2 separate regions of the Homo sapiens genome follow, and region 1 is linked to region 2. A link means that fine-mapping ties the variant in region 2 to the expression of a gene that starts in the linked region. Tissue or cell type: whole blood. Region 2 holds a variant in brackets; the other region holds the start of a gene. All regions are shown on one strand. Distances are from middle to middle.

Region 1 (8,099 bases), 83 kb after region 2:
GAGGTCAGGAGTTTGAGAGCAGCCTGGCCAATGTGGCGAAACCCCGTCTCTACTAAAAAATACAAAAATTAGCCAGGTGTGGTGGCGCACGCCTGTAATCCCAGCTACTTGGGAGGCTGAGGAAGGAGAATCACTTGAACCTAGGAGGTGGGGGTTGCAGTGAGCCGAGATCACGCCACTGCACTCCAGCCTGCGCAACGGGAGTGAGACTCCATCTCAAAAAAAAAAACAAGAATTACAGATAAAGGCCAGGCACAGTGGCTCATGCTCGTAACCCCAGCACTTTGGGAGGCTGAGGCAGAGGATTGCTTGAGCTCAGGAGTTCAAGATCAGCCTAGGAAACATAGTGAGACCCCCGTCTGTACAAAAAAGGAAAAAATTAGCCGGGTATGTGGCACGTCTGTAGTTAGAGCTACCTGGGGAACTGAGATGGGAGGATCATTTGAGTCCAGAAGGTTAAGGCTGCAGTGAGCTGTGACTGACCCACTGGACTCCAGCAAGGGTGAAAGAACGAGACTCTATCTCAAAAAAAAAAAAAAAAAGAATTACAGATGTAAATCTGATAGCACAACACAATAGTGTTCTTATACACTGTTCCACAGACTGTCTTTAAGACCAAACCCTAGAAGGATAAAAAGATTGATAAAAAGATTTCTTGCAATAATCTAAAAGGGGTGGGTAGAAATGGGTGGCCATCAATAAACCCAATGTTCCTACCCTGAAGGAATGAGAAGTCTTTTCTCAAAGCACTAAATGAGGCAGGTAAGCTTAAAGATGAATATTTTTACAAGCTTTGATTAATGAATTGCTTGGGAATAGGGTCTGGTCATGGTGGCTTACGCATGTAATTCCAGCACTTTGGGAAGCTGATGTGGGTGGACTGCTTGAGTTCAGGGGTTCGAGACTAGCTTGGGTAACACAGCAAAACCCTATCTCTACAAAATACAAAAAAATTAGCAGGACGTGGTGGTATGCGCCTGTAGTCCCAGCTACTCTGGAGGCTGAGATGGGAGAAGTGCCTGAGGCCCTTTTTTTGTCTCAAAAAAGAAAAAGAGAAAGAGTTGTTTGGGATTAGCATCCAAGTATTATAGAGCCTTTGGATACAGGCTACTAAATGAAAATTCTAGCAAGATGGTGAAAATATAAGTCCTAAAATTATTGTTTCGATTTTTTTAAAGACATTAAAGAATACACTGATTTTTATTTTACTTTTTAAAACAGGGTCTCACTCTGTTGCCCCAGGCTGGAGTGCAGTGGTACAATCAGGGCCACTGCAGTCTTGACTTCCCAGGAATGAGGGCCACTGCAGCCTCGACCTCCCAGGCTCAAGCAATCCCCCCACCTTAGCCTCTGGAGTAGCTGGGACTAAAGGCACATGCCACCACACCCAGCTAATTTTTGTAGAGATGGGGTTTCACCATATTGCCCAAGCTGGTCTCAAACTCCTGGGCTCAAGTGATCCACCTGCCTCAGCCTCCCAAAATGTCGGGATAACAGGTGTGAGCCACCATGCCCAGCCTATTTTATTTTGTGTAGAGATAGGGTCTCACTATGTTGCCCAGGCTGGTCTTGAACTTCTGGGCTCAAGTGATCCTCCTGCCTCAGCCTCCCAAAGTGCTGGGATTATAGGTGTGAGCCACTGTGCCTGGCCTGACTTTCTTTCCTTAAAAAAGTCAACTATTTTATTCCATGAGAATAAAATAGAATACAATTCTATTTGATAAAATCCTATTTCATAAAAATTCTATGAATTCTATGATATCAGAAACCATTTTTTGCATTTCTAAGGCCTACTTGCCAGGCCTTAGAAATACAAAAAATGTTTTCTGATCTCACAGAACTTCACATCTGGAGCTAAGAAGAGGAACAGATACTATCATTTATAATTGGTGAGATATACAAGCTATAAGAAGAACTGAAGATAAAGTGTTGTAGGAGAATATAGTGCAGTGAATAACTGATTTTGACTACAGTTTAGGGAAGGCCTCACAAAAGGAGACAAAATTTGTAAATCAATAAAAATGTAAGCAGGAGTTTGTCAGGTAGACTAGAGAGGGGTAGGGATTGGAGAAAGACTTCTTAGGAAGCATGAGATATATGAAAATGACTACTCCAAATACCTTTAAAAAATTGATTTTAAAAAAAGAGGAAAATAAACACTGGATAGAATAAACACAAAATTTCAGTTCATACATTTGTGCTTTCTAAAGCAAGCATTGGGCTGGGCTCGGTGGCTCATGCTTGTAATCCCAATGCTCTGGGAGGCTGCGGCAGAAAAATCACTTGAGGCCAGTTCAAGACCAGCTTGGGCAACATAGTCAGATACTATCTCCACAAAAAATTGAAAAATTAGCTGAGCACCGTGGTGCATGCCTATAGTCCCAGCTACTGGGGAGGCTGAAGCAGGAACATCACTTGAGCACAGAAGTTTGAGTTTACAGTGAGCTATAATTGCACCACTGCATTCCAGGCCTGGTCAAAAGAGCAAGACCCTGTTTCTTTCCATTTTTTTTTTTTTTTTGAGATGGAGTTACACTCTTGTGCAGGGTGGAGTGCAATGGCGTGATCTTGGCTCACTGCAACCTCTACCTCCTGGTTTCAAGAGATTCTCCTGCCTCAGCCTCCTGAGTAGCTGGGATTACAAGTGCACGTCACCATGCTCAGCTAATTTTATATTTTTAGTAGAGACGGGGTTTCACCATGCTGGCCAGGCTGGTCTTGGACCCCTGACCTAAGGTGATCTGCCCACCTCAGCCTCCCAAAGTGGTGGGATTACAGGTGTGAGCCACCGTGCGCCCGGCCAAGACCCTGTTTCTAAGGAAGAAAAAAAGAAAGAAAAAATAAATAAGTAGAGCAAACATTGAAGATGTCCTATTCAACTCTGCCTAACTAGAGATTTAGCTCTCAACTTTTCCTGGTGTTGGGGGTGAGGGGAAATATTCCAGGCAGAGGGAATGGCATGGATATACCACAAAACTGGGAACAAACTTGTCATATTCAAGAATCTGAAACAGGTGCATGCCTTGACCATAGTTTGACACAGTAAATGCTTATTCAATGACAGATGGTGTGACCTTGGGCAAGAGAGACCAAATCAGACCTAGGATGTCAGAAATGCTTTCTCAGGCTTTCAAAAATCAATCTGTTTTCAATTGAGACGCCATTCATTCTAATCTCCCTTACTTTCTTATTCTTCCCACAGCTCTCCAGTCATGCCACCCACGGATGTGGACCATTGTCCTTTACCCAGTCTATCCAGTTCTGAAGACACTTTTTTCAGGTACTACTCCTTCATATATAGGCACACATACAATCGACACTTTTCCAACTCTATGCCTTTGAACCCAGCAATTATTTCACTGGGTGGTGAGTCAGTGGTGCACCCTGGGAGTGGGTCCAGCGCCCTTGGCACATGAAAGCCTTTGAACATGAGGCCAGTGGTGCTACATGAAATACACTCCATCACAATTCTGTCTACACTGGGCTTATGCTCGTCTGGGTTTCTTTCTCTGTTTTTAGATAGAGTCTTGCTGTCACCCAGGCTGGAGTGCAGTGGTGTGATCTCCACTCACTGCGGCCTATGCCTCCTGGGTTTAAGCAATTCTCCTGCCTCAGCCTCCCGAGTAGCTAGATTACAGGCAGGCGCCACCACACCCAGCTAGTTTTTGTATTTTTTTAGTAGAGATGGGGTTTCGCCGTGTTGCCCAGGTTAGTCTCGAACTCCTGGCCTCAAGTGATCCGCCCGCCTTGGCCTCCCAAAGTGCTGGGATTATAGGCGTGAGCCGCCACGCCCAGCCTGGGTTTCTATATTAGAATAATCCTAGGCAAGACAACCTTCTGAGCCTTGCCATTATCACCTGGAAAGCAGTCTAATACTCATTGCCATGCCATGTTCACAGGGCTGTTGCGAGGATAAAATGCAAGAATGATGGGGAAAAAAATCAAGTAATTATAACTGACATTTGTTTTATTCAGAGCCAGACACTGATGCAAAGCATCAGGACGATGCTCTGACGGAGGAGGAAACGTAGGGCTGAGATCAGCTTCGTGTGCACATTGGCTTTGATCAAACTGCTGCACAGCGACCGGCAGCTCCACCCTGGTGAAGCAGAGGGTGGAGGTTAAACGGCTCAGACCCTGGGTCTGGCTCCATCTCTAACCGTGTGACCTTGGGCCTGTAGCTTAACCCGTCTAGGGCTCCGCTTCCTCTTGCGTGAAATGGGGATCACAGAAGGGGTTCAGACGGAACTGAGGGTCCATTTAAAGCTCTGGGCAGTGATGTCTTGGCATGCAGTTCATTTTCACTTTACCATTATATTTGTTCTTACTGATTTAAGGGCAGCACCATGACTTTTGTGGCGCTTGGCGGGGTAGAGGGAAGTGTGGTCAGGAAGCCTGGGGTCTGAGCGGCGCGGGACCTAGGCCGCTCCTTTCCTGAGCTTCAGTTTCCCGCCTCAAAATGATGGGTGGATTGGCTGAGCTACACCCACCTTTCCCGCCCCTCGGCGCTTGGCTGCGCAGCGACCCTCCTAGGTGGGGAAACTCCCACCACCCCATAGGCCGAGGAAGGGGCGGGGCAGGGGTGGGGCCTGGCGAGGGTAGGGTCCGGCCGCCCCACCTGCTGCCGCTCACCTCTAGGCTGTAGTTGCCTCGGATGGCAGTAAAGTCGTCCAGGGCTTCGGCCGCGCTCCCCTCGTCCAGGTTCAGCTCCTGGCACAGGGCCTGTAGCGCCTCCCCGGCTGCGGCGACCACCGCCGCCCCCTCAGCGTGGGGCTTGTCCTCGAACATCCCTTCAGGCCCCGCGGGCTGCGCGCCACGGCCCCCGACTTCTTTCTCCCTCCCAGGCGCGCTACCCACAACCACCTGCGCCAAAGCGCGCGAAAATCTGCAGCTGCGGGACGTGTTGTCATCCACCGTCTGCCTCCGCTTTTCTCCTCAAAAAAAGTCCGTTTTTCCTCCGGAGCTCCTAGCAGTCCCTCCCCGGAAATGTGATAAGAAGATGTACCTCAGATTCTGAAAGACCTGTCCTTGGCCCTTGGCTGGTCGCGGGGGGCCCAGCCGGCGGGACAGAAAAAGAGCGGAGGGATCCTCAGCCCGCGCGCAGAGCCTGCTGGGAGGTGTAGTCCATCTCTTGGGAGATGAAGCCCGCGGCCTCCCCCTGTCTTCCTGGTTAGGCTCTTGGGTTTTGGGGCAGGGCTGGGCTGCCTACTGCGAGGTGGCCTCGTGCAGCGTAGTGAGATGCCTCCTCTATCCACGGGCCCTGGGTTTGTCACTGTCCCTGGGCGCCAAACATAATCTGAGCTGTACCCCTTGAGTTAGGAGATGGAGGCTGGAAGAGAAAAAAGTAGCCCCTGGACGAAGAGGGGCCTCTTGGGACTCTCCCCAAAGTCCTAGTGCCCAGTGAGTGGTTCGCTAAATGACAGAGGGGAAGGATTGGTGACGGATATTAGAAGACGAATCCTCATCTCATGCTAGTCGCTAAAAGAGGCAGGCAGAGAAGACTGCAGTAAATGAGGCAGGAGAATAGGGTCTGGAGGCAGGGAACCTATGGCTGTTTCACGTGACTTCTTAGAACTAAATTGAAAGGAAAACCCCAACTTTCCACGCCTAAGTAACAAAAGAACCAGAGGCTGTTCCCTTGGACCTTTTCTGCATGGCAGATGGGAAATTGGCTGTCTGCAACAAATCACACTGAGCGCCTTCCAGTCTTTGTTTGCAACTTTGTAACTTCACTCCAGCCTCTGAACGGTTGCTGTCCACAACCAATCAGACTGATGGCGGGAGAGTCTTCCTTTGCATAGAAGTATAATTTTGTTAACTTCACCCTGGCCTCTGATTGGTTGCTTTCTGCAACCACTCAGACTGATTGTGGGCTACCACTTCAGTTACATCAAGAGAGCATAAAGTGGCCAATGGGAAACTTCTAGAGGGTATTTGGACCCCAGAAGATTCTGTGTCTGGGCCCTTGAGCTGCTGCGTGGGTTCGCTTCCCCACTATGGAGTGTACTTTTGTTTTCAATAAATCCCTGTCTTCGTTCTTTTGTTGTTCCATTATTTGCTTTGCCTGTAATCCCAGTACTTTGGGAGGCCGAGGCAGGTGGATCACTTGAGTCCAGGAGTTTGAGACCAGTCAGGCCAACAAGGCAAAACCCCGTCACTACTAAAAATATAAAAATTAGCTGGGCGTGTGGGTGCACTTGTGTAATCCTAACAACCTGGGCAACTGAGACATGAGAATAAAGAATCGCTTGAACCGAGGAGGCAGAGGCTGTAGTAAGCCAAGATTGCACCACTGCACTCCAGTCTGGGTAACAGAGTGAGACTCTGTCTCAAAAACAAACAACTGAGGACACATCTGTCAAACCCAGCCTCACCTGCATGCATTTAAAAAAACCAAAAATCAATATGCCCTTCCTTATATTGGTTTTATTTTTTCTTATTATCCCAGGACATGCCCATTTAACCCAAAATTGAGCTTTTCTGAATAGAAAATGAAGTATGGAAGGCCGGTTGCAGTGGCTCACACCTGTAATCCCAGCACTTTGGGAGGCTGAGGCAGGCGGGTCACCAGATCAGGAGATCGAGATCATCCTGGCCAACATGGTGAAACCCCGTCTCTACTAAAAATACAAAAATTAGCTGGGCATGGTGGCGGGCGCTTGTAATCCCAGCTACTTGGCAGGCTGAGGTAGAAGAATCGCTGGAACCTGGGAGGCGGAGGTTGCAGTAAGCCAAGATCGTGCCACTGCACTCCAGCCTGGTGACAGAGCGAGACTCCGTCTCAAAAAAAAAAAAAAAAAAAAGAAAAAAGAAAATGAAGTATGGGTAGTGAAATAGATTTACTCTGCCCTTCAGTTTTGAGCCAGATACACATGAAGGTTGTTTCTATTTTGATCCCATTGTGTGATAGCCTCTATGATTAGCCTCCCTGTTGTGGTTTAATATTTCAGAGTTCTCCCAAAGCATGTGGTTGGAACCTGATTATGACCTTTAGGGATTCCAAGACTAAAAAGATTATAGTGTGTACCCTTCCAAATGTAATTCAAAATATATGCAATTCTAAATCACAAAATAAGTGTAAGAAAGTACAAGAAAGTTCTAACTAATTTTCCCAAGATGTCTCATTTTGAAATTCTTAAATTTTTTTTTCTTTTTTTGTCCTCCAGCTTTGCTATGCCCTAAGCAGAAAATCAGTCTGCACTTGCCCCTCTCAGGACAAACTGCTTGTCTAACCTTCTATTAAAAAAAAAAAAAAAAAAAAAAAAAGCAGTTGATATTTGTGGGGGAGGGGCAAGACCTGACCTCACCATTCTTTTTTTTTTTTTTTGAGACAGAGTCTCACTCTGTCACCCAGGCTGGAGTGCAGTGGCAAGATCTCAGCTCACTGCAACCTCTCCCTCCTAGGTTCAAGCAATTCTCCTTCCTCAGCCCCCCAAGTACCTGGGACTACAGGCACACGCCACCATGCCCGGCTAACTTTTTTTTTTGCATTTTTAGTAGAGACGGGGTTTCGCCATGATGGCCAGGCTGGTCTTGAACTCCTGACCTCAGGTGATGCACCCGCCTCAGCCTCCCAAAATGCTGGGATTATAGGCGTGAGCCACCATGCCCAGCTGGACCTCACCATTCTTAATGTTCTTTTTCCTTGGAGGAAAAACTAAAGTGGTGATCTTTAAGCTGGTTCTGCACTGTGGAAGTAGTGCATTACAAAGATTAATAAAGCCTCTCTACCCACAGAAGGGGGAAAGGATTTGCATACAATCTTAGAAAAGCAAATGTAAATGGCTTTTAGATGTGAAAAGATGCCCAACTTTCTTTCTTTCTATTTATTTATTTATTTATTTATTGAGACGGAGTCTCACTCTTGTTGCCCAGGCTAGAGTGCAATGGAGAGATCTCGGCTCACTGCAACCTCTGCCTCCTGGGATCAAGCAATTCTCCTGCCTCAGCCTCCCGAGTAGCTGGGACTATAGGCGTGTGCCACAACGCCAGGGTAATTTTTGTACTTTTTAGTAGAGACGGGGTTTCACCATGTTGGCACAATGGTCTCAATCTCTTGACCTCGTGATCCCACCCGCCTCGGCCTCCCAAAGTGCTGG
Region 2 (8,103 bases):
ACCATGCCTGGCTATTTTTTATTTTTAGTAGAGACGGGGTTTTGCCATGTTGCCCAGGATGGTTTCCAACTCCTGGGCTCAAGTGATCCACCAGCCTCAGCCTCTCAAAGTGCTGGGATTACAGGCATGAGCCACCATGCCCAGCCACAAAGCATACTTTAATATACAAGTTGGTGATTTAAATGACCTTTCTACAATATTAAAAAAAACCCACAAATCTTTATGTAGAGAAATTAATATTTTCAGAGAAGGTTCAGCAATCCATCTGTATTACTTATAAGTCAAATTGGAATCTAGAGAAATGCAAACATATGAACTGAAGGTGGTGCTCTTTTCTCTAGATTCCACTTCAGAATGTTTTCACAACCATAGCTGTTGAGCTCACTGTCACTAGTGGCTCTTAGAGGGGTAACAGCCCTGGGCTGGTGTTTAGCTAAGTTCTACAGTATGGGAGGCAGTGGCAAACCTCAGCTTCAGACAACTAAAAGGCCTGCAGATATTCTTCTTGTGTCTTTGAGAAAGGTGGAAAGATTCTAAAAGGTAAAGCATATCCTGAGAGGTTAAGGAAGAAGCAAAATGAATTACATTTATTTCTCTGCAAATACATGGCAGGTGACAGGTGTTCTAAGAGCCTTATTGTACCACATACAACAGGAACCCTGATCAGGAACCAGTGTTCAGGTTTTACTGAGCACCCTCAATTGTAAAATAACAGCTTACCCCAACATAGTTTCCTACTTAATGGTGCAACTCTGGGATAGCTTGTGAAACCAGGCAGAACTTTGTCCTACTATTTTTTGGGGAAGGAAGAGTATTACAGGGTATTACAAACTATCATTTACTTGTATACACAAGAACCATGTGCTAAGAAAACCACTACCAATTAAAAAGAATTTAGCACATATATGAAAAAAGCTCTCATTCTCAATACACTGGCCTACAAACATTGAGAACATGGGTAGAAGCAATGCCTTCACCTTAGGAAAACCAGAAAACACAAACATGGTTCAAAAACCAAACAGCCCCAGGGGATGTCAGTCTTAATTTGGATGTCTTTTTCACTTCTGCTATTTCTAAAGGATCTTGACGAGGGTGGGAGGGGAGGGGAGCTATGTGGTTAAATAAAGTTGAGGAAATGCTGTATATTATATTGGAAATTCAGAAATTCATGTTAGTATAAGGCTCTGAGAAGTACTGCAGTTGGGGAAAAAAAATAACTCTCATGTTCACTTTAATTCCATACTTCCCCAGTTTTTTGTGTATAGTCTCTCTTCCCCCAAAACACTTTTTTTTTTTTTGAGACGGAGTCTTGCTCTGTCACCCAGCCTGGAGTGCAGTGGTGCAATCTCGGCTCACTGCAGTCTCTGCCCGCTGGGATCCAGCGACTCTCCTGCCTCAGCCTCCTGGGTAGCTGGGATTACAGAAGCATGCCACCACGTCTGGCTAATTTTTGTATTTTCAGTAGAGATGGTGTTTCGCCAGCTGGAAAGGCTGGTCTCGAACTCCTGACCTCAGGTGATCTGCCCGCCTTGGCCTCCCAAAGTGCTGGGATTACAGGCGTGAGCCACTGCGCCTGGACCCCCCAAAACACTTATACTACCATTCTGGGAAACACTGTTTCAAAGGATACTGGCTTGTTAACAGCTCTTCTAGGTTATTCTCATTATATGGATCAATTAAAATTATTTTTTTGTTTTGTTTTTATGAAAGGTTCTTGATCCTCTTGCCTCAGTCTCCCGAGTAGCTGGGACTACAGGTGCACGCTGCCACACCGAGCTAATTTTTTTTTACTTTTTGTAGAGACAGGGTCTCCCTATGTTTTCTAGGCTGGTCTCTAACTCCTGGGCTCAAGTGATCCTCCCACCTTGGCCTCTCAAAGTGCTGGGATTACAGACATGAGCGAACACGCCTGGTCTAAAATTATTTAATGTCCTCCTTAGATTAGAAATTTCTTGAGACAGAGACTATAGTGTCTCTATATTTCTGTGTCATTCCAATTCCAGCTGTTAATACTAACATAAGGTAAGGAGCTATACTTTACTTGAATGAACCAAACATTTAAAATTGTGGGAGGCTGGGTGTGGTGAAACCCTGTCTCTATAAAAATTTTTTTAAAAATTAAAGAAATTTAAAAACTAGGTGTGGTGGCATGCACCTTTAGCCCTAGCTACTTGGGAGGCTGAGATGACAGGATCGCTTGAACCCAGGAAATCAAGGTTGCAGTGAGCTATGATTGCCCCATTACATTCCAGCCTGGGCAACAGAGCAAGATCTCATCTCTAAAATTAAAAAAAAACTGAAGAAAAAAAAGACATTTAAAAAAACATACTTGGCCGGGTATGGTGGCTCATGCCTGTAATTCCAGCACTTTGGGAGGCTGAGGTGGGAGGATCACTTGAGCCCAAGAGTTCAAGACCAGTCTGGGCAACACAGTGAGACCCCATCTCGGTCTCCCAAAGTGCTGGGATTACAGGTGTGAGCCACCATGTCCGGCCAGAAATGGGTTTTTACTGATGAAAATAGTGAATGTTTATTAAGTGTGACTAATGCTAAAAAAGCCATACTCATTAATACAATAAATTTGATATTGCTTATAAATAATAGCTATTACTAAGGCCTTACTATGAACAAGCCCTGTATTAAATATTATATATATGCATATATGTATACATAGTTGTGTATTGCATAATGATGGGTTATCTTCTCAGAAATGCATTGTTGAAATGATTTTGTCATGAGAATACTATAGAATATACTTACACAAACCTAGATTGTATGGCCAACTACACACCTAGGCTGGATGGTATAGTATATTGCTCCTAAGGTACAAACCTGTACAGCATGTTACTGTATTGAATACCACAGGCAATTGTATCACAATGGCAAGTATTTGTGCATCTAAATATATCTAAACATAGAAAAGGTACAGTAAAAATACAGCACTATAATCTTATAGGACCACTGTTGTATGTGTGGACCATCACGGACTCAAACATCATTATATGGCACATGACTATGTGTGTGTGTGTGTGTGTGTGTGTGTGTCCACACATACATACATATACATATAATTATCTTTTTTATTTTTAGAGACAAGATCTTGCTCTATCACCCAGGCTGAAGTGCAGTGGTGCAATCATAGTGCACTCCAATCTCAAATTCCTGGATTCAAGTGATCTTCCTGCCTCAGCCTCCCAAGTAGTTGGGACTACAGGTGTGAGCCACCATGCCCAGCTAATTTTTTATTTTCATTTTTTGCAGACAGGGGTCTTGCTGTGTTGCTCATGCTGGTCTTTAATTTCCGGGCTCAAGGGATCCTCCTGCCTCAGCCTTCCAAAGTGCTGGGATTACAGGCATGAGCCACAACACTCAGCCTAAATATAATTCTTTTTAATCCTTAAAACAAGTTTCTAAGGAAGCAATGTAAAGTTTTCAATTAACTACAATACACTTGAGTACAGTGTTATGTTTGTGTTACTTAGGTTAAGCTATAACCTGGGTCTCACAAGTATTCTAATCAAGACTGCCACTCTGGAGCAGTCTGCTAACATGACATTGAAGAATTCACAGCCCATGAGGAGTGAGCTGGTGTTTTAATCAGGAAATTCATTCTCCACTCCAACAGTTTCTGCTAGGCATATCTCAGTCAATGACCAATGCTTTGCTCATTAACATACTCAAGGTCAGAATTTTTTTTTTTTTTTTTTTGAGAAAGAGTCTTGCTCTGTTGCCTAGGCTGGAGTGCAGTGGCACAATCTCAGCTCACTGCAACCTCAGCCCCCAGGGTTCAAGCAATTCTCTTGCCTCAGCCTCCGAAGTGGCAGGGATTACAAGTGCT[T/C]ACCACCATGCCTGGCTAATTTTTGTATTTTTAGTAAAGATGGGGTTTCACCATGTCGGCAAGACTGGTCTCAAACTCCTGACCTCAAGTGATCTGCCCGCCTCGGTCTCCCAAAGTGCTGGGATTACAGGTGTGAGCCACCATGTACAGCCAGAAATGGGTTTTTACTGATGAAAATAATGAATGTTTATTAAGTGTGACTAATGCTAAAAATGAGCTCATGTTCAGGAAATCAAAAGTATTTAAGATAAGCAGATTGGTTAAAATATTTGACTCCCTCTCCCACTCCCTCTCCCCACGGTCTCCCTCTCCCTCTCTTTCCACGGTCTCCCTCTGATGCCGAGCCGAAGCTGGACTGTACTGCTGCCATCTCGGCTCACTGCAACCTCCCTGCCTCAGCCTGCCCAGTGCCTGCGATTGCAGGCGCGCGCTGTCACGCCTGACTGGTTTTCGTATTTTTTTGGTGGAGACGGGGTTTCGCTGTGTTGGCTGGGCCGGTCTCCAGCTCCTAACCGCGAGTGATCCGCCAGCCTCGGCCTGCCGAGGTGCCGGGATTGCAGACGGAGTCTGGTTCACTCAGTGCTCAATGGTGCCCAGGCTGGAGTGCAGTGGCGTGATCTCGGCTCGCTACAACCTCCACCTCCCAGCCGCCTGGCCTTGGCCTCCCAAAGTGCCGAGATTGCAGCCTCTGCCCGGCCGCCACCCCGTCTGGGAAGTGAGGAGCGTCTCTGCCTGGCCGCCCATCGTCTGGGATGTGAGGAGCCCCTCTGCCTGGCTGCCCAGTCTGGAAAATGAGGAGCATCTCTGCCCGGCCGCCATCCCATCTAGGAAGTGAGGAGCGCCTCTTCCCGGCCGCCATCCCATCTACGAAGTGAGGAGCGTCTCTGCCCGGCCGCCCATCGTCTGAGATGTGGGGAGCGCCTCTGCCCCGCCGCCCCGTCTGGGATGTGAGGAGCGCCTCTACCCGGCCGCGACCCCGTCTGGGAGGTGAGGAGCGTCTCTGCCCAGCCGCCCCGTCTGAGAAGTGAGGAGCCCCTCCGCCCAGCAGCCACCCCGTCTGGGAAGTGAGGAGCGTCTCCGCCCGGCAGCCACCCCGTCCGGGAGGGAGGTGGGGGTCAACCCCCGCCAGGCCAGCCGCCCCGTCCGGGAGGGAGGTGGGGGGGTCAGCCCCCCGCCTGGCCAGCCACCCAGTCCGGGAGGGAGGTGGGGGGGTCAGCCCCCTGCCCGGCCAGCCACCCCGTCAGGGAGGTGAGGGGCGCCTCTGCCTGGCCGCCCCTACTGGGAAGTGAGGAGCCCCTCTGCCCGGCCAGCCGCCCCGTCCGGGAGGGAGGTGGGGGGTTCAGCCCCCCCGCCAGCCAGCCGCCCCGTCCGGGAGGGAGGTGGGGGGGTCAGCCCCCCGCCCGGCCAGTCACCCCGTTGGGGAGGTGAGGGGCGCCTCTGCCCTGCTGCCCCTACCGGGAAGTGAGGAGCCCCTCTGCCCGGCCACCACCCCGTCTGGGAGGTGTACCCAACAGCTCATTGAGAACAGGCCATGATGAGAATGGCGGTTTTGTGGAATAGAAAGGGGGGAAAGGTGGGGAAAAGATTTGAGAAATCGGATGGTTGCCGTGTCTGTGTAGAAAGAGGTAGACATGGGAGACTTCTCATTTTGTTCTGTACTAAGAAAAATTATTCTGCCTTGGGATCCTGTTGATCTGTGACCTTACCCCCAACCCTGTGCTCTCTGAAACATGTGCTGTGTCCACTCAGGGTTAAATGGATTAAGGGCGGTGCAAGATGTGCTTTGTTAAACAGATGCTTGAAGGCAGCATGCTCGTTAAAAGTCATCACCACTCCCTAATCTCAAGTACCCCGGGACACAAACACTGCGGAAGGCCGCAGGGTCCTCTGCCTAGGAAAACCAGAGACCTTTGTTCACTTGTTTATCTGCTGACCTTCCCTCCACTATTGTCCTATGACCCTGCCAAATCTCCCTCTGCGAGAAACACCCAAGAATGATCAATAAAAAAAAAAAAAAAAAAAATTTGAGACACTACCCTCAATAGCCATGAAAGGGATGAAAGATCCAGTGAAGTCTCTCAGCTTTACTCTTAGGGATAATAATGTTAAGGCTAAAAGCTCTGAGAAGTCCTGTGTCCAGCCCTGAATTCTGATCCACGGTATTTGCTTGATGGTAGCCTTAAGGTTGACTGAATCCTGCATCTGAAATCTTGGCACCTGTTCTTGAGCAAATCTTTTCTATGGGTGCTGGTCAGACATAGAACTGGGATATATGAACTTACTGCATAGGATATATAAATTGTGTGTGTGCTTTTTAAACAGTAATTATTTTACAACTCATAATGAATTTGTTTATAGAACCAGAACTGTTTTTCCCAAGTTGGTGTTCTTTGGTGTGTCCAAATCTGGGTCATAGCATCTAACCATAGCTCTAAGAACTGGAAGGTGACTTATCTGAATATAGACTTGTCTGACTGTATATCCTCCTACATAACTTTCTCTCTTTTTTTTTTTTTTTTTTGAGACAGGGTCTTGCTCTGTCTGGAGTACAGCGGCAAGATCATGGCTCACTGCAGCCTTGACATCCTGGGCTCAAGCCAACCTCCCAATTCAGCCTCCTGAGTAGCTTGGACTACAGAAGCCCACCACCATGTGTGGCTATTTTAAAAAATTTTTTGTAGCAATAGGCTGTCACTATGTTACCCACAATGGTCTTGAACTCCTGGGTTCAAGCCACCCTCCTGGCTTGGCCTCCCAAAGTGCTGGGATTGTAGATGTAAGCCACTGTGTTCTCTCTTTTTGAGTGCCAGAATTCCTGAGTTCATTATCACTGGATATTCTCCCTGCCCTGTGCCACCACCACTGTACAGGATCTGTAACAATGGTTGTTTGCTTACTTGCTAATAAATATATCTAGTTAATAACCGTATGTAAGGCAGTGTGCGGTGACTCACGCCTGTAATCCCAGCACTTTGGGAGGCCAAGGCAGATGGATCACTTGAACCCAGGAGTTCAAGACTGGCCTTGGCAACATGGTGAAACCCCATCTCTACAAAAAATATAAAAATTAGCCAGGACGTGGCTGAGTCGAGAATCACTCGGGCCTGGGAGGTCAAGGCTGCAGTGAGCTGTGACTGTGCCACTGTACTCCAGCCTGGGTGACAGAGCAAGACATGGTCTCAAAACAAACAAACAAAAGGTCAGGTGCAGTGGCTGACGCCTGTAATCCCAGCACTTTGGGAGGCCAAGGCGGGTGGAATACCTGAGATCAGGAGTTCAAGACCAGCCTGGCCAACATAGCAAAACCCCATCTCTACTAAAAATACAAAAATTAGCTGGGCCTGGTGGCAGGTGCCTGTAATCCCAGCTACTCGGGAGGCTGAGGCAGGAGAATCACTTGAACCTGGGAGGCGGAGGTTGCAGTGAGCCGAGATCGCACCATTGCACTCCAGCCTGGGCAACAAGAGTGAGACTGTATCTCAAAAAAAAAAAAAAAAAAAAGAAAGAAAGAAAGAAATTGTGTAGCAGAATTTGATCTGAAACCTATATATACAGGAAGTGGCAAACTCTCAGTCACCCAAGTTTCTTTGGCAGATACTTATCAAAAAGAAAACAAAACAGAAAACGACATCGTCTATTATCTTTTGCTTACTTCTACTCTCTGGAACTTCACTGCTCTTGTAGCTCAGATACTTGCTAGCAGTTAGTTTCTCATAGAAAAAACACAAAACAGGCAAGTGATCCACAGCTTTCTAGCTAACCTCTGATGTCTGGTTTTGTAGGAACAGAAAAACCACCCTGGATAGGTAAGCAACATGTATAACAAATATAGAAAATGGCTTTTTTTGTTGTTGTTTTTTTTTTTTGAGATGGAGTCTCACTCTGTCGCCCAGGGTAGAGTGCAGTGGCGCGATCTCCGCTCACTGCAAGCTCCACCTCCTGGGCTCATGCCCTTCTCCTACCTCAGCCTCTGGAGCAGCTGGGACTACAGGCGCCCGCCACCACGCCCGGAGAATTTTTTGTATTTTTAGTGGAGACGAGGTTTCACCGTGTTAGCCAGGATGGTCTGGATCTCCTGACCTCATGATCCACCTGCCTCGGCCTCCCAAAGTGCTGGGATTACAGGCGTGAGCCACCGCACCCGGGCTTGTTTGTTTTTTTGAGATAGAGTCTAGCTCTGTCGCCCAGACTGGAGTGCAGTGGCAGGATCTTGGCTCACTGCAACCTCTGCCGCCCAAGTTCAAGTGATTCTCCTGCCTCAGCCT

Evidence for each region. PIP is the estimated chance that this variant, and not a neighbour inherited with it, causes the effect.
Region 1: RBL1 starts here. The variant in region 2 is fine-mapped to the expression of RBL1 in whole blood (TOPMed, PIP above 0.99).

The regions. Positions count from the first base shown.
Region 1 is chr20:37,091,141-37,099,239 of GRCh38, forward strand. RBL1 (RB transcriptional corepressor like 1) reads right to left here and starts at 4,857. Exons shown (of 22, transcript NM_002895.5): 1 at 4,633-4,857. The coding sequence starts at 4,788. RefSeq lists enhancers at 4,216-4,315, 4,549-5,225, 4,876-5,145, 5,266-5,315 and a silencer at 4,586-4,645.
Region 2 is chr20:37,007,745-37,015,847 of GRCh38, forward strand. All of the region lies in intron 19 of RBL1 (RB transcriptional corepressor like 1), which reads right to left. Among named protein-coding and RNA genes, the nearest start is that of SAMHD1, 60 kb to the left of the region's middle. RefSeq lists an enhancer at 4,028-4,969. The variant T/C (reference allele first, on the strand shown) is at 3,839.